6 separate regions of the Homo sapiens genome follow, and regions 1, 3, 4, 5 and 6 are each reported to be linked to region 2. Evidence: microRNA targets listed by miRTarBase, many of them from high-throughput screens and not tested one by one. Region 2 holds a microRNA gene; each other region holds the end of a gene's coding sequence.

What was found. The annotated mature microRNA hsa-miR-6890-3p reads CCACUGCCUAUGCCCCACAG and lies in region 2 at 1,749-1,768, shown strand. An mRNA with a match to its seed (bases 2 to 7 or 8) in the 3' UTR can be bound and repressed. Matches are read on the target gene's strand: a 7mer-m8 pairs with bases 2 to 8, a 7mer-A1 pairs with bases 2 to 7 and ends in A, and an 8mer does both.
Region 1: the mRNA of NWD1 is a reported target of hsa-miR-6890-3p. Seed matches in the 3' UTR shown: 7mer-A1 at 1,600-1,606 and 7mer-A1 at 1,298-1,304.
Region 3: the mRNA of CTCFL is a reported target of hsa-miR-6890-3p. The part of its 3' UTR that is shown has no 7-base or 8-base seed match.
Region 4: the mRNA of SEMA3E is a reported target of hsa-miR-6890-3p. Seed matches in the 3' UTR shown: 7mer-A1 at 259-265.
Region 5: the mRNA of ZNF430 is a reported target of hsa-miR-6890-3p. Seed matches in the 3' UTR shown: 7mer-A1 at 1,882-1,888.
Region 6: the mRNA of MCTS1 is a reported target of hsa-miR-6890-3p. Seed matches in the 3' UTR shown: 7mer-m8 at 476-482.

What each region holds. Positions count from the first base shown.
Region 1 is chr19:16,814,748-16,818,844 of GRCh38, reverse strand. NWD1 (NACHT and WD repeat domain containing 1) reads right to left here. Exons shown (of 19, transcript NM_001007525.5): 19 at 892-3,817. The coding sequence ends at 3,806. The region is part of intron 2 of LOC124904648 (a long non-coding RNA gene); the gene reads left to right. Among named protein-coding and RNA genes, the nearest start is that of SIN3B, 13 kb to the left of the region's middle. RefSeq lists a silencer at 1,169-1,365.
Region 2 is chr3:49,097,622-49,101,621 of GRCh38, reverse strand. MIR6890 (microRNA 6890) reads left to right here and starts at 1,708; the gene lies at 1,708-1,768. QARS1 (glutaminyl-tRNA synthetase 1) reads left to right here. Exons shown (of 24, transcript NM_005051.3): 9 at 1-2; 10 at 181-267; 11 at 948-1,047; 12 at 1,164-1,242; 13 at 1,324-1,432; 14 at 1,531-1,661; 15 at 1,769-1,861; 16 at 1,975-2,112; 17 at 2,191-2,278; 18 at 2,369-2,512; 19 at 2,633-2,737; 20 at 2,930-3,022; 21 at 3,142-3,269; 22 at 3,364-3,430; 1 more. RefSeq lists an enhancer at 768-1,268.
Region 3 is chr20:57,495,074-57,499,182 of GRCh38, reverse strand. CTCFL (CCCTC-binding factor like) reads left to right here. Exons shown (of 11, transcript NM_001386993.1): 11 at 482-2,017. The coding sequence ends at 633. Among named protein-coding and RNA genes, the nearest start is that of CTCFL, 28 kb to the left of the region's middle. RefSeq lists an enhancer at 273-322.
Region 4 is chr7:83,363,709-83,367,817 of GRCh38, forward strand. SEMA3E (semaphorin 3E) reads right to left here. Exons shown (of 17, transcript NM_012431.3): 17 at 1-4,109. The coding sequence ends at 3,878. Among named protein-coding and RNA genes, the nearest start is that of PCLO, 200 kb to the left of the region's middle.
Region 5 is chr19:21,057,601-21,061,709 of GRCh38, forward strand. It overlaps ZNF430 (zinc finger protein 430), which reads left to right. Exons shown (of 5, transcript NM_025189.4): 5 at 1-2,450. The coding sequence ends at 421. Among named protein-coding and RNA genes, the nearest start is that of ZNF714, 23 kb to the right of the region's middle.
Region 6 is chrX:120,611,631-120,615,739 of GRCh38, reverse strand. MCTS1 (MCTS1 re-initiation and release factor) reads right to left here. Exons shown (of 6, transcript NM_014060.3): 6 at 1-3,557. The coding sequence ends at 3,476. Among named protein-coding and RNA genes, the nearest start is that of MCTS1, 9.6 kb to the right of the region's middle.

The DNA.
Region 1 (4,097 bases), not on the chromosome of region 2:
TTGATGTCCCCAGGGCCAGGAAGAGGGTGAGGTCAGTTCCTGCAAATGCAGGGTCAGATACCAATTTTATATAGAATGTTGATGTTTTGTTCATCATTCATTTTTAAATTCATTTTGATTTTTAAAAATATGATAATAGGCCACACACGGTGGCTCATGCCTGTAATCCCAGCACTTTGGGAGGCCAAGGGAGCACAGATCACTTGAGGTCAGGAGTTCAGGGCCAGCTTGGCCAACATGGCAAAACCTCGTCTCTACAAAAAATACAAAAATTAGCTGGGCGTGGTGGCCTGTAGTCCCAGCTACTCAGGAGGCTGAGTCAGGAGAATCGCTTGAATCCAGGAGTCAGAGGTGCAATGAGCCGAGGTCGCACCATTGCACTCTAGTCTGGCAGCAGAGCAAGGCCTTGACAAAAAAAAAAAAAAAAGATAACAAAATATTATTTGTCTTCCAAAAGAAAAGAAAACAAGAAAAAAAAGAGAGAGAAAACATTATTTGTCATGATTGCTGAGCTTTTCGGCATCCCTTAATTTTATTTTATTTTTTTTCTGAGACATGGTCTCACTCTCTTGCCCAGGCTAGAGTGCAGTGGTGCGATCATAGCTAACTACAGCCTTGATCTCCTGGGCTCAAGTGATCCTCCCACCTTGGCCCCCTGAGTAGCTAGGACTGCAGGTGTGCACCACCATGCCCAGCTAATTAAAAAAAAATTTTTTTTTTTTTTTTTGGAGAGACAGGGTCTCAAACTCCTGGGCTCAAGTGATCCTTCTACCTTGGCCTTTCAAAGTGCTGGGATTACAAGCATTGACCAGCCAACTGTCAAACTTTCTTAGCAACCAAACTCTTTTTCAAATGAATAAACACTGCAAAAACTCCCAATATAAGCAATAATTTGTTGTAGCATTTTATTAGTAAAAAGGCATTTCCAATGTTTAAATTAGGATTTATCTACAAAACAATCAATTCTCACTGAGGCTGTGGAGATGGACACAGGCATTTAAAATCAGAATTTGTAGGTGAAATCTTAATTGGTCTCAACATCTACTTTATTTCTGCATTGGGTAAGCCCTTGATTCACAGAGAAGCAGTGGCAAAGAGTAGCTAATTTTTTCAGGGCTCCCTTCACAATTTAATTGGGCTCTTCAGTTAAATCAGTTAAATGAAAATGGCAGAAGAATCCTAAATTATTAGGTTGATGCAAAATTAATTGTGGTTTTTGCCATTACTTTTTTTTTTTTTTTTTTTTGGAGACAGAGTCTCTGTCACTCATGCTGGAGTGCAGTGGTGCGATCTCGGCTCACTGCAACCTCCGCCTCCCGGGTTCAAGCCATTCTCCTGCCTCAGCCTCCCAAGTAGCTGGAATTACAGGTGTACGTCACCACACCAGGCTAATTTTTGTATTTTTGAGTAGAGACAGAGTTTCACCATGTTGACCAGGCTGCTCTTGAACACCTGGCCTCAAGTGATCCACCCGCCTCAGCCTCCCAAAGTGCTGGGATTACAGGCGTGAGCCACCGAGGCTTTTGCCATTATTATTATTATTATGAGATGGAGTCTTGCTCTGTCACCCAGGCTGGAGTGCAGTGGCACAATCTCAGCTCACTGCAACCTCCGCCTCCCGGGTTCAAGTGATTCTCCTGACTCAGCCTCCTGAGTAACTGAGATTACAGGCACTCACCACCATGCCTGGCTGATTTTTGTATTTTTAGTAGAGAAGGGTTTCACCATGTTGTCCAGGCTGGTCTCAAACTCCTGACCTCAGGTGATCCACCTGCCTCGGCCTTCCAAAGAGCTGGGACCACAGGTGTGAGCCACTGTGCCCAGCCAGTTTTTGCCATTATTTTTAATATTTTTAATGGCGAAAACCACAGTTACTTTTTGCACCAACCTTAGTAATCTTCAACACCTTAGAAGCTGCTGCCCAATACATCCAAGCATACATCTTAAAATTACAGTTTAAAATATTTTTAAATGAAATTTGACACTAACATTTGCAGAACTACCAAAACCTGCCTTGGAAAACTGGTTTGGAAAATGGATGAATAAGACAGCAGTAGGGTCTTGTTCAGCTCAAAAGCCTCTGTTTCTAAGGTTGCTTTTATTGAGACTCTATCAGGAATTCCACGGAGGGGAGAAGGGATAGCCACCTTGAAGATTTAGACTATCCTAGCATTAAAGTAAAAGCCTGAGAAGACTGAGAAGGGCTTTTAGAAGGCTGTGGGCAAAGAAGAAAGATCCACTTAAGTGGAATGAAAACAGTTTGACTGTTGAACTTGCACAAGGCAGACAGTTCAAAAGCAAAGCAGGGAGAGATCAGCAGCTCTTTCTACTTCCAAGAGCCTCCAGTTTTTAAGATTAAAAACCCACATCTTTATCCCAAAAGTTTGGGAGCCAAGGAATAGAGAGGGATGAACTATAACATGTTGATTGTTTTACTGCCAGCGTGAGTCCTGAAGTCAGCTCATTAACCAAAGACGCACATGCCAAATGCACTATAGATATAAATTCAACCAATCGCCAACTTTAAAAGTCAGAACATTTTTGCATAAAAGTCTGGATTTCTGGCTTTGCTTATTACAACTGGAAGCACTGACAGCAGTGGGCTTGTTTGGCCATGGTGATTCTGGGCTACAGTCAGGCTGCTCATACCCACCCTAGACACAATCTCTGCCTTCCACATGTCCAGTCTCTGTCTCTCCCTGCTGCTCACCCAGGTGCATGGAAGTGTCTAGATTAGTCACTAGCTCCTGTGAGCATTTGAGTGTGGTGCCTGTGGAAGAGATGGTTGTGCTCTGCAGACTGAAATTGGAGTGAGGTCTAACAGGAATGGGACAGAAGGCTCACTCTCAGAGCTCTTGCACCTTGGACTTGTGACCTGAATCAAATTATAACTACTTCCGCAAGGCTCAGTTTCCTCATCTGTAAAATAGATACAGAAACTCCTGCCCTCCCTAAAGTATGAGTTGTGATGAGGATCAGATGACAGCACCTACAGCTTTATAAACTGTGAGGTTCTGTGGTCCACATCAGTGATTTGCTGTATCTCACATTCATCCGTTCCCCCTTCATCTGGTACCAGAACTCCAGTTTGCATCTCAGGAGTAATCTCTTCTATTCTCAGTCCCAGTGGTGGACATTGGATCAGTCTAGCCGATTAGAGCTCTGCATTCTCCCAGATATAATAATTGGTTTAGGGCTAGGCGTATGGGCCAATTGGGACCAGTAGAGTTGAGGCTAGGACTGTTGGGAAAGAGAAGCTCTCTTTTCTATTGAAATTGGAGACAGCAGCATATTGGCCACCATGTTGCTAACCTGGGGGTGGCAAGTCTGAGAATGAAAATGAAAAAGAGGAAAGAATAATGGAAAGATGAGAAGAGACAAGGTCTGAAGCCATAATCTGAAGCCATGGGTCCAGATATACACCAGCAAACGTATTCTTTTTGCTTTAACTAGATTAAATGGGGCTAACTCACTGGAGCCCCATACCCCCACAGGGTTTTTTTATTTTTATTTTTTTACACTATCAGGCACACTTGTGAGCATTTGTTTGATTTGGTTTCATTTCCCTGGGCACTTTCTGACTCCAAGTCCTGGGGAGCTCCTGCAGCTGCAACTAGCTCCTCTCTCTGCCTGGATTTGACCATCCACATTGCCTTCTTGAAGTTCTTAAGAGGGTCCTGCGGTGAGGCTTTTGCTGAAAGGCACTGGAAATTCTCTCGGATCAGATAACCATGCCTGGTGGGGGCAATGAAGCCACTGGTGGTTGGGATGATTCTGTTTACCACAGCATGGACAAACTGGACTGTCAGCAGGGTGCCTGTAAGGGTGAAGAGAAGGACACAAATGAGAAAAATGGGGTGTAGAGGTCCAATCCTACACATTCCAGAGTTGGCTGCATGGAATAAAATTCCTGCTATGCCCTCTACTAATTTTGGCATGACATTTATTATGCCAAAGAGTCCCTCTTCCTTTATCTGCACAATGGGAATGATAACAGAACCTACACCTGCTCAGGGCGATTTTTAAGATTGAAAGGCATCATGCAGGTCATGTGCTTAGTGTAGGTTTTTGGCCCAGAGTGAGCTCAGTAAATATTA
Region 2 (4,000 bases):
AGGTGTGTGGGGATGTGGCCATGTGAGCTTGTGCCATCAAACACCTGCCTGAGTGCCTGGGCTGCGTCCATACTGCCCCATCTCACCCATCACCATGGCCTTCCTGGGAGGGAACATCTGTTTCTTTAAGGTCATCTGAGCTCAGACTTTATTTCTCTTTTCCCATCCCCCTTATTTTAGGTACGTACCCGGTTCCCGCCAGAACCCAATGGAATCCTGCATATTGGACATGCCAAAGCCATCAATTTCAACTTTGGCTATGCCAAGGTAAGCATGTGTCTAGGGACCTGGCAAGCAAGATGACCACTTGCTGTTCCCATGAGTGGATACCATATCCCTGCCTTGCTGTCTGCTCCCAATAATGTACCCAGGTGGGCAGAGGCCATGGAAAGGAACCACATGTGTGACAGATACCTAGGAATCTATTGAGCTTATTGGAATAAATAGCTCCCTCCCTCTGAGGAGTCAGTGAGTTCAAATTTGGGGGAGTTGCCAGTGCAGTCCCTAGGCTTAGAAAGATGCTAGGTTAGATACAGGAAGGTGAGAGAAGCTCTTGAAGACATTTTTAATTCTGACATGAGTCCGGGTTGGGTGGCTCACGCCTGTAATCTCAACACTTCGGGAGGCTAAAGTGGGTGGATCACTTGAGGTCAGGAGTTCGAAACCAATCTGGCCAACATGGTGAAACCCCATCTCTACTAAAAATACAAAAGTTAGCTGGCCATGGTGGCACACGCTTGTAGTTTCAGCTACTGGGAAGCTGAGGCAGGAGAAACCCAGGAGGTGGAGGCTGCAGTGAGCCAAGATGGTGCAAGATAATCAAGACTCCATCTCAAAAAAAAAGAAAATTCTGACATGAGAGTGCTCTGTGAATATCCTAGTTTGATAAACAGGATTGTGGGGCTGATGGATGATGTGGGAGTTCACAGATGGTGCAACTTTCCTAGGCCAACAATGGCATCTGTTTTCTGCGTTTTGATGACACCAACCCTGAGAAGGAGGAAGCAAAGTTCTTCACGGCCATCTGTGACATGGTAGCCTGGCTAGGTATGGACTAGGCAAAGCCTAGAAGGGCTGGTGGTTAGTGGGCCTCTCCTTGGGCCATGGCCTGCCCACTGGGTGTTTGTGGCTGGCTGCTCATACTTTGTTTCATTTTGCCCCAGGCTACACACCTTACAAAGTCACATATGCGTCTGACTATTTTGACCAGCTATATGCGTGGGCTGTGGAGCTCATCCGCAGGTAAGGCCAGGGCCATGACGTAGAGCCAGGCAGACTGACTAGGTCACAGCCATGCTGGGCACTCACACCGCTTCCCCACAGGGGTCTGGCTTATGTGTGCCACCAGCGAGGAGAGGAGCTCAAAGGCCATAATACTCTGCCTTCACCCTGGAGAGACCGTCCCATGGAGGAGTCACTGCTGCTCTTTGAGGTGGGGTCCTAGAGGAGCATCTGGGTTTGGGTGGGCCAAGGTGCTGAGAATGAGATGCTCCTGTGCTTAGAGACAGCCTGAGTCCTTGTTCCCCTCAGGCAATGCGCAAGGGCAAGTTTTCAGAGGGCGAGGCCACACTACGGATGAAGCTGGTGATGGAGGATGGCAAGATGGACCCTGTAGCCTATCGAGTCAAGTATACACCACACCACCGCACAGGGGACAAATGGTGGGTGTAGAATGGGGTGGGGTGGTGGGGCTGCCGAGCAGGGCGATGGGCCATGGGGTAGGGCAGAGTAGGGCTGGATGGTAGGGCCCACTGCCTATGCCCCACAGGTGCATCTATCCCACCTACGACTACACACACTGCCTCTGTGACTCCATCGAGCACATCACTCACTCACTCTGCACCAAGGAATTCCAGGCCCGGTGAGGGAGCTGGGTCCATGGGGTGGTAGGGCCAGTGGAATTCCAGCAGCCCTTCCTGTGGTCTCTGCCTGGTTCCAGAGCTGGCCAGTGCTAACCCTACTCTCCCACCCCAGACGCTCTTCCTACTTCTGGCTTTGCAATGCACTGGACGTCTATTGCCCTGTGCAGTGGGAGTATGGCCGCCTCAACCTGCACTATGCTGTTGTCTCTAAGAGGAAGATCCTCCAGCTTGTAGCAACTGGTGCTGTGCGGTAGGTGCGGCTGTTTGGCTTATGAAAGGTTAATGGCATATGCTCCCAAAGGCCTTCTCACCACCTTCTTATCCACAGGGACTGGGATGACCCACGGCTCTTTACACTCACGGCCCTGCGACGGCGGGGCTTCCCACCTGAGGCCATCAACAACTTCTGTGCCCGGGTATAGCCCAGCAGGTTGGGTAGATACATTGGGGGTTGAGTGTGGCAGTTTGTGATTGTAGCTGTGACTGATGCTGAACTTTCCTGCCAGGTGGGAGTGACTGTGGCACAAACCACAATGGAGCCACATCTTCTAGAAGCCTGTGTGCGTGATGTGCTGAATGACACAGCCCCACGAGCCATGGCTGTGCTGGAGTCACTACGGGTCATCATCACCAACTTTCCTGCTGCCAAGGTGGGCCTGCCTCAACATGTGTGTCACATGTGTGTGTGTAGCTGGGGGTACACTTGGCTCTGGGCATGGGGGTCCTAATGCTGAGTATGACTCATACCTGTCTCCTGTCTCCTGCTATAGTCCTTGGACATCCAGGTGCCCAACTTCCCAGCTGATGAGACCAAAGGCTTCCATCAGGTTCCCTTTGCACCCATTGTCTTCATTGAGAGGACTGACTTCAAGGAGGTAAATTGTGGGGGTGGAGGGTCCCGTTTGCTGCTGAGTCTGGTACTGGGAACCTTTCATCTCCTCATCTCTGTCAGTCCATCTACTTCCTGCTTCAGATGAACCAATCTTTGCCAGACACGGGGGTAGGGAAGCTTCCCCACTTGTTTGACCCTTGCAGCCTCATGTGTCTACCCCACTTCCTATCTCTAGGAGCCAGAGCCAGGATTTAAGCGCCTGGCTTGGGGCCAGCCTGTGGGCCTGAGGCATACAGGCTACGTCATTGAGCTGCAGCATGTTGTCAAGGTGAGAGCCAGCTGCAGCCTTCCTACTGCAGTGCCTGCTGGGGCCAAGATGTGAGTATAGCCTGCAGTCCTGGTTGTGGTTCCCGGGTCTAATTGCTGCTCCCCTCCCCCCACTTCCAGGGCCCCAGTGGTTGTGTAGAGAGTCTGGAGGTGACCTGCAGACGGGCAGATGCTGGAGAGAAGCCAAAGGCCTTTATTCACTGGGTGTCACAGCCTTTGATGTGTGAGGTTCGCCTCTATGAGCGACTGTGAGTGAACAGAGCTGGGGTGGGGGCAGGTACAAGATGCACATTGCCTGCTATGGCTGCCCAGCTGGGGGTATGACCTTCACTTTGGCTGCAGATTCCAGCACAAGAACCCTGAAGATCCTACTGAGGTGCCTGGTGGATTTTTAAGTGACCTGAACCTGGTAGGTTCATGAGGTTTGGGGTGAGGGAGGTAGGCCTCCCTGGTTGGATGGTTGCCTGAGTTCCCTGCCTGCAGGCATCACTACACGTGGTGGATGCAGCATTAGTGGACTGCTCTGTGGCCCTGGCAAAACCCTTCGACAAGTTCCAGTTTGAGCGTCTTGGATATTTCTCCGTGGATCCAGACAGCCATCAGGGAAAGGTGCTTGACTTTACTCACCTGCCCTCATCTGCAGCAGTGACAGTGGCTGCCGTTCATTGTGCCAAGTGCTCTGCATACATTCCCTTAGTTAATCCTCACCACCTGAGGGAGTTGGTATTCATATTCTACTAGTGAGGAAACTGGCACTGAGGATAACTCCAGGCACAAAATTTTGTATGAAGGCTGCCTTTTTTTTTGAGACAGTCTTGCACTGTCGCCCGGGGCTGGAGTGCAATGGCACCATCTCGGCTCACTGCAACCTCTGCCTCCCAGGTTCAAGTGATTCTCCTGCCTCAGCCTCCCGAGTAGCTGGGATTACAGGCGCCTGCCACCACACCCGGCTAATTTTTTGTATTTTTAGTAGAGATGG
Region 3 (4,109 bases), not on the chromosome of region 2:
CAATATAAATCTCTGAGATCCGCCTCGATATAAATCTGTAAGATCCACATTCACCTATAGCAGCTGATGCCAGCTGGGAATGACTGTGTCCCCCCCCCACCCCCCCCCCGTCACCTTCAGGGGACACTGGCAATGTCTGGAGACATTTTTATGGTTTTTGCAGCTGGAGAGGAGGGTGCTACTGGCATCTAGTGGTAGAGGCCAGGGTCGCTGCTAACATCCTACAGTGCCCAGAACAGCGCCCTGCCCCCAGCAGACAGCTCTCTGGCCCCAAACGTCTGTAGCGCTGAGGCTAAGAAGCCCTGACTGAAGGCAGTAGTTGAGATCAGAATAGTACCATCTTATCAATTAGATTGTTTTCTAACATGCTTGCTGCCGTGTTCAAATTTAAGTGATGGTTTCCAAAATATATTTGCACAGTTTATAAATTCCAATTCCTTAGCTTTCTGATAAATTTGCTCATCCTGGACTTTTTCTCAAGAAGCTGCTGCTGAGGAGGCTTCCACCACGAAGGGAGAACAGTTCCCAGGAGAGATGTTTCCTGTCGCCTGCAGAGAAACCACAGCCAGAGTCAAAGAGGAAGTGGATGAAGGCGTGACCTGTGAAATGCTCCTCAACACGATGGATAAGTGAGAGGGATTCGGGTTGCGTGTTCACTGCCCCCAATTCCTAAAGCAAGTTAGAAGTTTTTAGCATTTAAGGTGTGAAATGCTCCTCAACACGATGGATAAGTGAGAGAGAGTCAGGTTGCATGTTCACTGCCCCTAATTCCTAAAGCAAGTTAGAAATTTTTAGCATTTTCTTTGAAACAATTAAGTTCATGACAATGGATGACACAAGTTTGAGGTAGTGTCTAGAATTGTTCTCCTGTTTGTAGCTGGATATTTCAAAGAAACATTGCAGGTATTTTATAAAAGTTTTAAACCTTGAATGAGAGGGTAACACCTCAAACCTATGGATTCATTCACTTGATATTGGCAAGGTGGCCCACAATGAGTGAGTAGTGATTTTTGGATATTTCAAAATAGTCTAGACCAGCTAGTGCTTCCACAGTCAAAGCTGGACATTTTTATGTTGCATTATATACACCCATGATATTTCTAATAATATATGGTTTTAAACATTAAAGACAAATGTTTTTATACAAATGAATTTTCTACAAAATTTAAAGCTACCATAATGCTTTTAATTAGTTCTAAATTCAACCAAAAAATGTTTTACTCTTATAAAAAGGAAAACTGAGTAGGAAATGAAATACTAGATTAGACTAGAAAATAAGGAATAAATCGATTTTACTTTGGTATAGGAGCAAGGTTCACCTTTAGATTTTTGTATTCTCTTTTAATTATGCTCCTTGGCAGGTATGAAATTGCCCTGGTTACATTCCATTATTGCTTATTAGTATTTCACTCCATAACCCTTTTTTCTGCTAAAACTACTCTTTTTATATTTGTAAAATAATTGGCAGAGTGAGAAGAAACATAAAATCAGATAAGGCAAATGTGTACCTGTAAGGAATTTGTACTTTTTCATAATGCCCAGTGATTAGTGAGTATTTCCCTTTTGCCAGTTGACAAGATTTTTCCACCCTCGAGCAGCGTGAGAGATGCCTCTTTAACACTTGAAATTCATTTCTATCTGGATACAGAGGCAGATTTTTCTTCATTGCTTAGTTGAGCAGTTTGTTTTGCTGCCAACCTGTCTCCACCCCTGTATTTCAAGATCATTGATAAGCCCTAAATTCAAATTCTTAAGATATGGACCTTTTATTGAAAATATCACAAGTTCAGAATCCCTATACAATGTGAATATGTGGAAATAATTTCCCAGCAGGAAGAGCATTATATTCTCTTTGTACCAGCAAATTAATTTAACTCAACTCACATGAGATTTAAATTCTGTGGGCTGTAGTATGCCATCATTGTGACTGAATTTGTGCAATGGTTTCTTAATTTTTTTACTGTTATTTAAAGATGTTTTACATAATTCAATAAAATGAAATGACTTAAAATTGCTATATTTGTTATATGTCAGCATTGGTCTTTAAAAACATCTTCTTTGTCTGGAGAGAATGTGGAGAAATTGGAACCGTTGTGCACTGTTGGTGGGAATGTTAAATGGTGCAGCCACTGGGGAAAGCAGTATGGCAGTTTCTCAAAAAAAAAAAAAAAAAAATGGAAATAGCATTAGTATCTGACCCACCAATCCCACTTCCAGATATACCGTATACCCAGAAGAACTAAAAGCAGAGTCTGAAAGAGGTATTTGCACACCTATGTTCATAGCAGCATTTTTCAAAATAGTCAAAGATGAAAACAACCCAAATTCCATGGACGGGTGAATGGGTAAACAAAATGTGGTATATACATGCAGTGGAATATTATGTAGCCTTCAAAAGGAGGGAGACCCTCACACATGCTACAACATGGGGGAACCTTGAGGACGTTATGCTGAGTGAAATCAGCTAGTCACAAAAGGACAAGTATTATATGATCTTACTTATAGGAGGTATCTAGAACAGTCAGAGTCATAGAGACAGACGGTAAAGTGATGTTTGCCAAGCACTGAGGGGTGAGGGAGAATGGAGAGTTAGTGTTTAGTGGACACAGTTTATTTGGGATGAAGAAAGAGTTCTGGAGATCAGTCATGGTGATGGCCACACAACAGTGTGAATCTACCTAATCATTCCACTGAACCATACATTTAAAAATAGCTAAAATGGTAAATTTTATGTTGTGTTAGTCCTTTCTCACATTGCTATAAAGAAATACCTGAAACTGGGTAATTTATAAAGAAAAGAGTTTTAATTGACTCATAGTTCCGCAGGCTGTACAGGAAGGATGATGTTGGTATCTGCCTGGCTTCTGGGGAGGCCTCAGGAAACTTACAATCAAGGCAGAAGGCGAAGAGGGAGTAGGCGCGTCACATGGTGAAAGCAGGAGCGAGAGAGGGGGAGGCGCCACACTCCTCTGAACGACCAGATTCCTTGAGAACCGCCACTGTCATGAGGACAGCACCAAGCGGATGGTGCTAAATCATTCCTAAGAAACCGCCCCCGTGATCCAGTCACCTCCTACCAGGCCCCACCTCCAACACTGGGGATTACAATTCAACATGAGCTTTGGCCAGGGACAAATATCCAAACTATATCATGTATTTTACTACAACCAAATGTATGTTAATTTCAAAAACAGATAACATAAATATGTTTGAAAACGCAAGCCAAGTTGGTATCTAAACACTGTTTTAAATAAATAAATAAAACTCCTAGGCCGGGTGCAGTGGCTCACTCCTGTAATCCCAGCACTATGGGAGGCCGAGGCAGGTGGATGACCTGAGGTCAGGAGTTTGAGGCCAGCTTGGCCAACATAGTGAAATCCCATCTCTGTTAAAAATATAAAATTTAGCCGGGCGTGATGGCAGGTGCCTGTAATCCCAGCTACTTGGGGGGCGGAGGCAGGAGAATCACTTGAACCCGGGAGGCGGAGGTTGCAGTGAGCCGAGATTGCGCCACTGCACTCCAGCCTGGGCAATAGAGTGGGACTCCGTCTCAAGACGAAAGCTCCTATAAGCACACTTTTATAAATAGTTGCAGTGTTTCGTGTGTGCAACACCTGTTGAGATGTAGAACAAAATTCAGATGAGATGATCAATACCTACTCAGTTACGTGCGTGACTCTCACCCACACCTGGCAAGAAGGTGAAACACCTGGTCCTCAAGTGCAGTTAGTGCTTTTGATACCAAAATAGATGCAGTGACAATAGTGCCCGCAAGAGGGCAGTCGCTTCTGTCTTTTCCGATATTGAGACAGGTTCACTATTCGAGAGTAGGAAGCACGGAAAGTTATAGCAAAGTCTTGGCGATTTTATTAATTCCGCGATACAGAACGAGAACATTTTTTCCTTGGCAAGGAAGAGAAGGGACCTTTGCAAAACCTGGGAGTGAGGACACCAGTTGGCTCTGAGTTCGTGAATGCTTGGTGAGTGACATGCTTTTGCTTAAAATAGTTTTGAGATCCAGCAGGAAATAATTCCGGAATGTACACCTCTTGCACAGTGTAACATCTCTGTTTTGCAGGGAGGGGGTGTTTAAATTACAACATTGTTTG
Region 4 (4,109 bases), not on the chromosome of region 2:
AATGGAACTCAGTGTGACGCTCTGCTGTAAGAAAAAGAGTATGGACTTCTTATTATAAATGTTGCATTTTCTCTTGGAATCCAAATATCTATACAATACTAAGTACTTTTCTTAATATGTTTATTAGGCTACAGGTGTCACAGGTCAATTCATTTTTTTTTTTTTTTTTTTTTTTTTTTTTTTTTTTTTTTTTTTTTGAGACGGAGTCTCGCTCTGTCGCCCAGGCCGGACTGCGGACTGCAGTGGCGCAATCTCGGCTCACTGCAAGCTCCGCTTCCCGGGTTCACGCCATTCTCCTGCCTCAGCCTCCCAAGTAGCTGGGACTACAGGCGCCCGCCACCGCGCCCGGCTAATTTTTTGTATTTTTAGTAGAGACGGGGTTTCACCTTGTTAGCCAGGATGGTCTCGATCTCCTGACCTCATGATCCACCCGCCTCGGCCTCCCAAAGTGCTGGGATTACAGGCGTGAGCCACCGCGCCCGGCCAGGTCAATTCATTTTTAAGGACAACAGCTGCTGTTTGTTTCATGCTTAACACCAACACTCAAAATGACTTATAGTATTTTACAAATTTTACAAATGTTTATAATTACTATGAAGATTTACAAAACCCTAAAACCTATAGCAAATATCGAACACTCATTACAAACATTCTAAGTATTTAACTAATTTTAGATAGAAAAAACTCTAAAATATGTATGGAATTGCCACTTACTAAACAGGCAGACTTTCTGTTCCCTTTTTTCTAGAGCTCTTATTAGTGTTTATCCTTATTTTTAATCCCTGTTTCTCCAAGTTGATAGCTTTGCTCTGAAATATTCAGTAATTCACACAAAAGAAAAAATTAGCAATATAGAATTATAGACGTGGAATCACGAAGTAAAATCTTTTTTGTTAACAAATCTGGATCTCTTGCCCAATGGGTGACGTTGTGCTGAAGGAGGAGGTGAATGGGCATTGTTTTATGTCAAAACTAAGTCTATCCACAGGTCCTCTCCTGTAACAAAGATAGAAGAGGTCTAAAGAAGCAGGAGACCGGCCCTCGATGGAGGTGCCTCTTAGAAATTAGATGAGTGGTTATGATTTTTGCTCAATGTTGCTAGAGAGCATGGTTTCTCTCCTTCTACAAGAAAGAGAAAAATGGGGAAAATTTGGTGAGATGAAGGGTGAACTCTTAATTCCTCCAAGTCTTGTAGGTATCTAAGTATGTGCCCTCCCTGAGTTCAGAGAAGATCCATCCATTTTTAATTTTTAAAGCCTGGGCATTTCTCACAACAGATTCTGAATTTGAATTAATTCTAACCTCAGACAGAACAAAAGACTGGGGATGTATTTTTGTGGTATGTTTTAGATTCTCAAGAAGGACAGAACAGCATAGATTGATTTATTTGTATTTTGATAGGGCAGTGAAGATTTATTTTATAGTATGTGAGGGGTGTGTGTGTGTGTGTGTTGGGAGAGAGAGGGAGAAACTGAGAAAATGGTGGGACATGAAACATATCCTTGGAAACTGCTTTCTCTCTCCCTTCGTCTTTCTCTCTCCCTCCCTCTTCTTTCCCATTTCTCTTCAGTACTGCCATAAACAGGCGGGAAGCAAGATTATATACATATATATGTACATATGTGTGTGTATAATTATATGTAAAATTTAGTGGTCTCACCAAATTGTGGACTTGGGCCCTCAAAGTTTTCTTATCAATTTTCTTTCAAATTAGCATTGAATAAACTTTCTTTGGGTTTGATTTATTTTCCTATAATAAATTTTAGCATTTTATGTAAAATGTTTCTTTTCTGGTTAATAGTCACTTTATTTTAATCAAACGCTCTTCAGTATATGGACTTCTTATGACTTGTGTCATAGAAAAGCTATTTTCCTCTGCCTATTGCTTCAGTTACCAAATATTTAGTTTACAAGTTACACCATTGTTATCATCATTAACTACTTGTCTGTGTTATTGCAATTAAAATGATAACTATTTATGTCTTATCTGCCTTTTTAATTTTAAAATTCAGATACAGGAGAAAATCCTGCTTTCTTTCTTGTGTGTTAATGGAAGGCAATTTTCAATAAAGTGTACTTAATTGACTTATTTGTTCAGACATAAACTTTGTAAGGCCCCTGTGATCTGTGTTTGTGGTTCTATTTCTCCAAATTGAGCAGGCTTTTACTGAATATAGTTTTTAAAAATACATTTCACTACATAGTCTTTTCAGTTATTATTTAATGGCAGTAATGACCTCCAGTGGATTCTTGGGTAAATAGCAAGTGGAATTTTCAGAGGATGTCAATTTTCAGTATATTTGCATTTCTTAGATCTTTTGAAGCATGGTGACTTATCTGAATAAACTTAAATTTTTCTTAAAATATTTATGTATTTGTTCATTTTACAATGAAATTGCAAGTGATTATGAGCACTTTAACTTAAATGTATAACCTATAAGCTAACTTTGAAAACTGAAATAAACACTGTTTAAGATTAATATCTAAATAAATGTTCATAATGGTTCTCCTGTGTAATCCACTTGCTTTCAATTTTTATTTAGGTGAAAACATCTTACAAAATTTCATATTTTAGAAAGGTAATTGCTAAATATTTAATAGAAGAAGGAAAGACTTTGATAAATAAACATTCTTAAAAATACAATTGTTTTTTATAACATTTAAGAGAGAGGTAAAAATGCTCTGAATATCTCAGTAGTTAAGTGAACTCATGAAACAATTTTCTGTCTCTTAATATAAAAGAGAGAAGAAAATTTGATATTTGAGAGCAAATCACTTTAATATTTTTTTCACAAATAAAACACGGTTGTTATAGTATATTTTAGATTTCAGCGAAGATTATTTAGAAACTTAAAATTTGGAGCTTTAATAGATTTTCAGTGCTGCAAAATCTTCATTTTTGACTTGTGAGATAAATTATCTATAAACAATACTTTCATATTAAAGTATGATACAAGGATTAACATGTTTTTTATTTCAGTTATTTGTTTCTGCAAATGAACTTGATGTATCCATGTACCTACTGATAATCTGCTTTCAAATCTTTCCTAAACAGATATCCGTCTGTAGAGAAAAAAGAAATGTGTGAGAATATAATTTTTTTTACCACAAGAGGGAAGCAAAAATCTTTTACAGTAGTTAGAATCCTAACTATAACTTCATCTGATTTGACATTCTTTCTGAGATTTGATATCTTTCTGAGAAGTTACCTTAGTTTTTATTTCCACAGTGAGTGAAAATTAAAGACTGTGTTATAAAGCAAAAATAGTGTGAATGTACTTTAATGAATATTTTACGAAGGGCACAAGCCTCAGAATGACATTTTTCCTTTCATGGGTTACAGCACTCACAACACACCTGCTACTTAACACTCATGGCTTAAACAACACTAATAAAATAATCCTTAAAGAGTACAGAAAGTTCACATGAGAATGCCAAAGTATCTTGTATTCTGCATATCTTACATTGTGATGGAAAAGAAAAATTCAGAAATATTAAAACATATTTAGTTTTATATTTACCATGATTATAAGTCTCCAATTTTTCTTCAATATTCTAATAATCTTGTCTTCCAAAAGTAAAATAATAATTTTCACAGAAAAGCAGCCAAGTACTGAAAATAACAGCTACAGTTGTTTTTTGATAAACATAATGAGAAACCATTAAGCAATGCATTTATTTAAAAAATTAGTTAATTTTATGTAAAGTTTATCCAGTCAAATGAGTATGTAGAATAATTTATTATAACACCTTCATAGTCATTCCTGTATTACAGAAATCTCTTTTAAGTAATGCAAAGAAGTTGGATGATTTATTTTTTTACTTTTTTACTTTCCAAATATAAATTCTTCAAAAGACAGTAGATAGTCTCACCCCATCAGGAGTCCAGCGTGTGCCTGGGCAGGCGGTAATGCTCAGGTTTGGAACGGAGCTTCTTTTCCTGAGGGTTGGCATACTTCCACTTGGAGGGTGACATTTTAAGCTTTTTCCTCTTTCTATCTGTGCACCATACTTTCTCGCAGTATTCTTCCACTCTCTGGAAGTTGCTATAACCGATCAGCTGCAAGAATTCCTTGTACCATGGTTTTGCTCCCTGCGAGATGCTACTC
Region 5 (4,109 bases), not on the chromosome of region 2:
TGAACAATGTGGCAAAGCTTTTAATGAGTCCTCAAACCTTACTGCACATAAGATAATTCATACTGGAGAGAAACCCTACAAATGTGAAGAATGTGGCAAAGCCTTTAACCGGTCCCCAAAACTTACTGCACATAAGGTAATTCATTCTGGAGAGAAACCCTACAAATGTGAAGAATGTGGCAAAGCTTTTAACCAATTCTCAAACCTTACTAAACATAAGATAACTCATATTGGAGATACATCTTACAAATACCTAGAATGTGATAAAGCCTTTAGCCAGTCTTCAACTCTTACTAAACATAAGGTAATTCATACTGGAGAGAAACCCTACAACTGTGAAGAATACGGCAAAGCTTTCAACCAGTCCTCAAACCTTATTGAACAAAGTAATTCATACTGGAGAGAAACCCTACAAATGTGAAGATTGTGGCAAAGCCTCTAACCCGTCCTGAATTCTTACTAAACATAAGAACATTCATACTGAAGAGGAACCCTATGAGTGTGAAGAATATGGCAAAGCCTTCAACAAGTCCTCAATTCTTACCAGACATAAGATAATTCTGGCTGGGTGCGGTGGCTCACACCTGTAATCCCAGCACTTTGGGAGGCTGAGACGGGTGAATTACATGAGGTTGGGAGTTCGAGACCAGCCTGACCAACATGGTGAAATCCTGTCTCTACTAAAAATACAAAATTAGCCATGCGTAGTGGTGCATGCCTGTAATCCCAGCTACTCGGGAGGCTGAGGCAGGAGAATTGCTTGAACCCGGGAGGCAGAGGTTGAAGTGAGCTGAGATCGCGCCATTGCACTCCAGCCTGGGCAACAAGAGTGGCACTCCATCTCAGAAAAAAAAAAAAAAGATAATTCATACTGAAAAGAAACTCTACAAACTTGAAAGATGTGACAGTGCTTTTGACAACACCTAAAACTTTTAAACATAAAAAATCATACTGGTGAGAAATCCTAGAAATGTAAAGAATGTGACAAGGCCTTTAAATGGTTGTCACACTTCATTATAGGTAAGATAGTTCATACTGAAGAAAACTTCTACAAGTGTGAACAGTGTGGCAAAACTTTTAATGAATGCTCACACCTTATTGCACAGGAGAGCATTTATACTTGAAAAAAATTGTACAAATATAAAGACCATGAAAAAGCCATTAATATCTATTCACATCTTACCACTGGAGAGTTCATACTTAATAAAAGGAATATAAGTGCAATTACTGTCAAAAGATCTTTCAGAAAATATAAACCTTTAAAGCGAAGAAGGTATTTATTTTGAAGATGAACACTACAAATGTGAAGAGGGTTGTAGTACCTTTATTTGTATCACAGATTTTATTGTACACATTTTGTACTAGAAGAAAACTCTGAAGTAGTTGCTCAAACTTTGTTCAACATCAGGGAATTTATATTGAAGAAAAACTTTGCAAATTTAATAAATTTTAAAAAACACTTTTTCAAAAAGTACAGCTTAGAAGACACCAGAGTTCATACTAAAATATATTTTTGCAGATGCAGTAAAAATGAAAATATTTAATCCAAAATTAAGTCTATGTAAATATCAGAGAATTTACTGTAGAAATATATAAGGCACTGAGACTTCAGATATTATACTAAATCAGAGTGCTGAGTATAGAAAATAAAACTGAAGTTGGGGCCAGGTGCAGTGGCTCACACCTGTAATCCAGCACTTTGGGAGGCCGAGAAGGGTGGATCACCTGAGGTCAGGAGTTTGAGACCAGCCTGACTAACATGGAGAAAACACGGCTCTACTAAAAATACAAAATTAGCCAGCTGTGGTGGTGTATGCCTGTAATCACAGCTACTCGAGAGGCTGAGGCAGGAGAATTGCTTGAACCCGGGAGGTGGAGAGTGCAGTGAACTGAAATTGCGCCATTGCACTCCAGCCTGGGCAACAAGAGTGAAACTCCATTTCAAAAAAAAAAAAAAAAAAACAACTAAAGTTGGTAGAAAAATTATTTGTATATAACTTTAAAAGGAGTAGAAGGGCTTTTTGCAGAGTTATTACGTTTGAAGTATACTTTATTTCTTGAAAAAATTACAGATTTTTTGTAAATAATGATGTAATTCAACTCTCAAAATATTTCCTACTGTTTCTTTATTCCAGTTGTATTCACATGTGAAAGCATGTGATCAGTTATTGCTGCATTAAAAACATGAGTCTTTTTTATTAGGTGGCCATTATTTATGATCTTTTCTATGAAAGAGTAAGGACATTAAAATGTAAGATGCATGATGAAAAATTAAGTGAAGAGGCTCTTTATGGTTAATTTATATTGAATAATGCATTAGGTAGGTGTTCAGAGTAATATTTTGCGTTGTGAGAACATTTTTAATTTTATTTAAAATTAAATGAAAATAAATTAGTATATTATTGTACTAATTGTACTTTTGTATAATAAAATCCAGTGTATTTTAAAAATGTTAGGTTATGTGTGGTTAATATTTTAATCCAATATTTTTAACATGTTAAATACTATTGTGCATTCAATGAAGTGTTATTATGCCACGAACTTTAACCTGTTCCACTTTACTTAAAGGTATAGATGAAAGATAATAACAATAAGGGGCCAGGCGTAGTGGTTCACACCTGTAATCCTAGCACTTCGGGAGGCTGAGGTGGATGAATCACGAGGTCAGGAGTTCAAGACCAGCCTGGCCAACGTGGTGAAACCCCGTCTCTACTAAAAATACAAAAATTAGCCAGTTGTGGTGGCTGGCGCCTGCAATCCCAGCTACTTGGGAGGCTGAGGCAGAAGAATCGCTTAAAACCAGAAGGTGGAGGTTGCAGTGAGCCAAGATCGCGGCACTGCACCTGGGTGAAAGAGTGAAACTCTGTTTCAAAAAAAAAAAAAAAGATGGTAACAATATACTATTTGGCAACATAGTGGATTAACATCTTGAGTAATCTCTTTTGTCAGTGGGTTTAAACTGCAAATTAGTTAAAGAATATTGCTTCTGTAGGTTAAATTTTTCTTTTTCAATTATTTAAATTTATTTTTAAAATTTTTGTGGGTACATAATATGAGTATATATTTATGCCATATATGGCATATTTTGATACAGGAGTACCATATATAATAATCACATCAGGGCAAATGGGGTATCCATCACTTCTAGCAATAATTTATCCTTTGTATTACAAACAATTCAGTTCTACACTTTTAGTTATTTTAAAATGTACAATTGTTATCGGTTACAGGGTTATTTTTATGGTCATAATAAAAAATATGCAAGTATAAATAAAATCCATACATTTCTGAGTCCTGAATAAATATTATTAAAATTTTCTTACATATATTTTTGAACATGTGGCCTGTCTGCCTACAAACACATACAAACTTTTAGTTTTGATTTACATAGAGTTAAATATATATTAGTCTAAAGATAAATCTTAGTTGTAAGAAAACTATGGAATATGAGTTTGTCCCTACTTTCAGAAAAAAAAAGAGCAATATAGGAACAAAACAAGTCATTTTAACAAGGTGACTACTAGAAAACTAAAAACCTCAAAAATGCAAAAGCAAACATATACTCTCTGCTTTGTATTGAATTTATTACTGTATAATCTATGCCTTATACTTCGGAATCTCCCCATGCAAATTCTGTTTATACTTGCCTGGTACTCATGATAGACCCCTACTTTTTGGTATTTTGTATATTTATTTTATAGTTTATGAAATATTCATTATGTGAGCTGGAATGTGAGTATAAGAATAATTTTTATGAAATGTGCATACAAAATAATTTTATATGTAATTCCACAATTAGTATATTAAGTTACATTTTATTTAGCTAGAACACTCCATTTTGTTTTCAATTGGAGAACCCTATATAAGCTTACTATTCTTTAGTTATTGTTCTTTTTACTTTTTATAATTGACAAAGTAAATTTATTTATGGAGTCAAATTGTTCAGGTAAATACAAGGGAAGCTTAGTAAGTCATGAAGATGTTTTTACATGTAAATGTGGAAAGCATATATAGCAGTTCTTGGTGTGTAACATGCTCCAGAAAAAGCCATAAACATTTCTGCTAAAGTTAGTTTGTAACTTCAAGTCAGAGATAGAAAATATTAGTAG
Region 6 (4,109 bases), not on the chromosome of region 2:
ACTGATCAGGCCATTATGTCACCGGACAACAGGACAATCATCTGAGTTGGGATGCTGAATCACGGCAACTCCAAGACATCTGGGATTTTTTTTTTACCCTCACATTGGATACAATCTATGGAATATTACTACATTTAGTTCATTTGTAATTTACAATTTTTGATGACTAAAATTGGAAAAGGATTAGTACATTCCTACTGGCTTTACATATTAGTATTGGGCTGTCACCATTACCCAGATTATTTAAAATGTAAATTTTCTTTACTCACTAGATTGGAAGCTCCTTAAGAGCAAGGGCTACTTCTGTATTATTCATCTTCATGCCACGTCACTTAGAACCTAGTAGATACTCAATAAATACCTATTGAGCTGAACTGACCTTGTCTGAGTAAAAGTGAGTCCAATACACAAGTTACTAGATTGTAGGTTGGTTTGACACAAACTTAATTTTGAAACTAAAAATGAACTAAAGACACACTGCCTGAGAGAAGCAGGCTCTCTATCCCTGTATTCCTATTCTCACGAATATAGGTAAACTAAGTTTCCATTAAGCACAGTATCTAAAGATGCTGACACATCTGCTAGTTTAATCTCTTTGAATTGCCTTTCATGTATGACCTAATGTTTAGAAAATGACAAGGATCACACATGTAGAGTGACATCCCTGATTAACAGTGATGAGCAGAGGCCTCAGACCCAGGGGAAGCAGAGAACATACATATTTAGTCCATATCACCAAGGCAACACAGTGTACCTCAGCACAGTAGAAAAACAAGCACAGATGTTGATGTTGAATATTTAAAAAGTGTTCCTTACACCCACTGTAACAGTGGTTAGACACAAAGATGAATTATTTCAAAAACCAAGCTATTAAAAGTTTTTACTTCTCTAATGTATGTATATGTGTGCTTTGTTTTTCATTGCTAATACTCCATAGGCAGTCTTGGTCAAAAAACATTCTCTTAGCAACAAAAATAAAGGTTCAAAGTTTGATTCTGACATAAATGACTTGTATATTCTTTTTAAGAACATAAGGAGCTACAGGCCTCAAATAGGGTGCCTCCTCCCCCAAATAGGGAGACATCTGAATTTGAAGCCAGTAAGTCAGCAAAAAATTAAACTATCTGTTGAAGAAACCCCCCTGGGAGATGACTTACAAATGAGTTCCTGATGAGACTATTTATACTTTCGTGGACCAGGAATAAATAATATGGTAAGCTGCAGAATAAAACTGTCATAACATAAGGAAAACTACATGGAACTTGAAAAGGATATAGGAAATAAAATATCAGGGCACCTCTATGGGCTAGGAAAGAGATGAGATTTTGGCAGAGATAAGCATTCTAATTAATGATGAAGCAGGAAAAATTCTCCAAGTCTTACCTCAGCACAACTGAAATATTACCCCAATTTATCAATCTTCCTTTGCTCATACCTGTGTTTACCAAGTAACTTCCTGTTTCCTAATTGTTTACCATAGGCAGACCTATCACTATGAATTAATACATTTATATTCTAACTGGGGAATCTCCAAGTCTCTCAAGTTTCATCAGTGGGAAATGGTTTCTCAAGCTGAGGGTCAGACCCTGGATCTATGTCCACCTATGTTACATCCTGGGAGACCCAGCTGGAACAGCCAGCCAAATGATCTCTCTCTTTTTGCTATCCACCCTCACCTTTCTCACCAACTTCTAACTGTAACACAGGTCACCACAATCTTGTATATGTCTGTATCCATCTGAAAAATAAAATCACATGTCATATATTGGTAAACAACCAAATGAAGATGGCTAAGACACTAGAATAACAGCAAGGTTATTAGGAAGAAAAATGGTCTTTATCAATAAATAAATCCACAACTGCTCTTTTAACTCCCCAAACAGATTACTGTTCTTACTAAAGCAGGTCCATGTCCCTCATATTCCACTTATAGAAGATATACATTATTTAAGGAGTCTAGTGGGGACCCAAATCCAGATGTTCTGGGCATCTGTTTGGTATGACTTTACTCAAAAGAAGGCACTAAAAAAACTGAACCTGAATCTGATCAATCTTATTTGTTTACAGGATATACAGGAGGCATAAAAACAAGTTAATGACTTCACAGTGATACAATCAACAAAATCCAGAATATGTGTGGAAACTTTAAAGACAAAACAACTAGATTTCTTAAATAATTTAAGGGGGAAAAGAAAAGGTAACTTATAAATTAAACAGACTTCAATAAATAACAACCAAATGCAATGTATGAACCTTGTGTGGTACCTATTTCAAGCAAACCAACAGTTAAAGAGAATTAACAGTCTAGACAGTTGATCATATTAAGAAACAGTTCAACTTTTTAGGTGTGATAATGGTATTGTGGGGTTTTTCTAATTTTTAAAGATACACACTAAAGTAGTTATGACGCCAGGCATGGTGACTCATGCCTATAATCCCAGCACTTTGGGAGGCTGATCACTTGAGGCCAGGAGTTCAAGACCAGCCTGGCCAACTATAAAATATATAAAAATTAGCTGGGCACGGTGGCTCATGCCTGTAATCCCAGCACTTTGGGAGGCAGAGGGGGACGGATCACTTGAGGCCAAGAGTTCAAGACCAGTCTGGCCAACATAGCGAAACCCCATCTCTACCAAAAATACAAAATTAGCCGGGCATGGTGGCACGTGCCTGTAATCCCAGCTACTCAGGAGGCTGAGGCACAAGAATCGCTTGAACCCGGGAGGTGGAGGTTACAGTGAGCCAAGATCGTACCACTGCACTCCAGCCTGGGCAACAGAGCAAGACCCTGTTTCAAAAAAAAAAAAAAAAGAATAAAGTAGTTATGGATGAAATGATAGGATGTCTGGGATTTGCTTCAAAATAATTGGGGGGTGGGGAGAAATAATTGAGGTATAGATGAAATAAGACTGACCATAAACTGAAACTGGGTGATGGATATGGAGAGGTCCATTATACTATTCTCCAGACTTCTTAATATGTTTAGAATTTTCCATTGAAGTTTTTTTTAAAAAAACAATCAACAAAACACACACACACACACACACACACATACACACACACACACACACACACACACGAGAATGAGCACTGCTGGGTCCCCTGGAGTAATAGAATAAAATTCCTAGTCTAGTTTCTAGCCCCATTTAACTAGACAGTTTCTCTAGAGGTCTACCATAAAATGGCAATCCATTGACCAAGTCCTGCTCTTCACTCTTATATCATTAGCCTAAGAAAGGACATTAGTTGTATGAGTTTGCTTACTTACCAGATACCTTTTAATGTCCAAGTTTGCTACCCAATTTTAACTTGAGTTTAAGAAAACTTAAAATAATTTCTGAAGCTAACAGAATTTTAGCATCTGGTGAATTTATTCAGCATAACCACAGGCATTATCTTCATGCTGTCACACACAGACACAAACACAGATACAGCACAATATCCATATTTAGCCCAAGTGCATTCCTTCTGAGGCTCATTTATATGTCTTCATATGCCACAGCCCATCATTTAAATAATGGATATTTTCAATGCCAATTCCTTTGTTGACTTTCTCACTGTAGAAGGAAAAAAAACACATAAACATACTTTTATGCATTTTTATAGTCTTACTCGTGATAAATATAATTCAAAGTATATTGTTATTTTTTAATTATTAAGCCACAAGTAAAGAACTTATTGACATCACAATTACATTGTTGTTTATATTAAACTACATTACTCTGTGGCAGCTCATATCTAAAAGTGATTTTAGTGATCTAACTAGTGGGTCTATAGAACCAGAGTAACAATGTCACAAGACTAGGGGAATATCAAAGTGCTACATTAACCCTGAAACAAAATTAATACCACTAATTTGGTCATCAAATGGGTTCTAAAATTTTTAAATATACTGCCTATGTTTTGATAATATATCTTTACTAGTTCTCTAAATATTCTACATTTCTTGTATTACCAGGTCAGGATATAAGATACTGTGTGGTGGTGAGATATATCACTGTTTTTAAAACTAGCAGTAATGACCAGGTGCAGTGGCTCACACCTGTAATCCCAACACTTTGGGAGGCCGAGGTGGGTGGATCACTTGAGGTCAGGAGTTCGAGACTGGC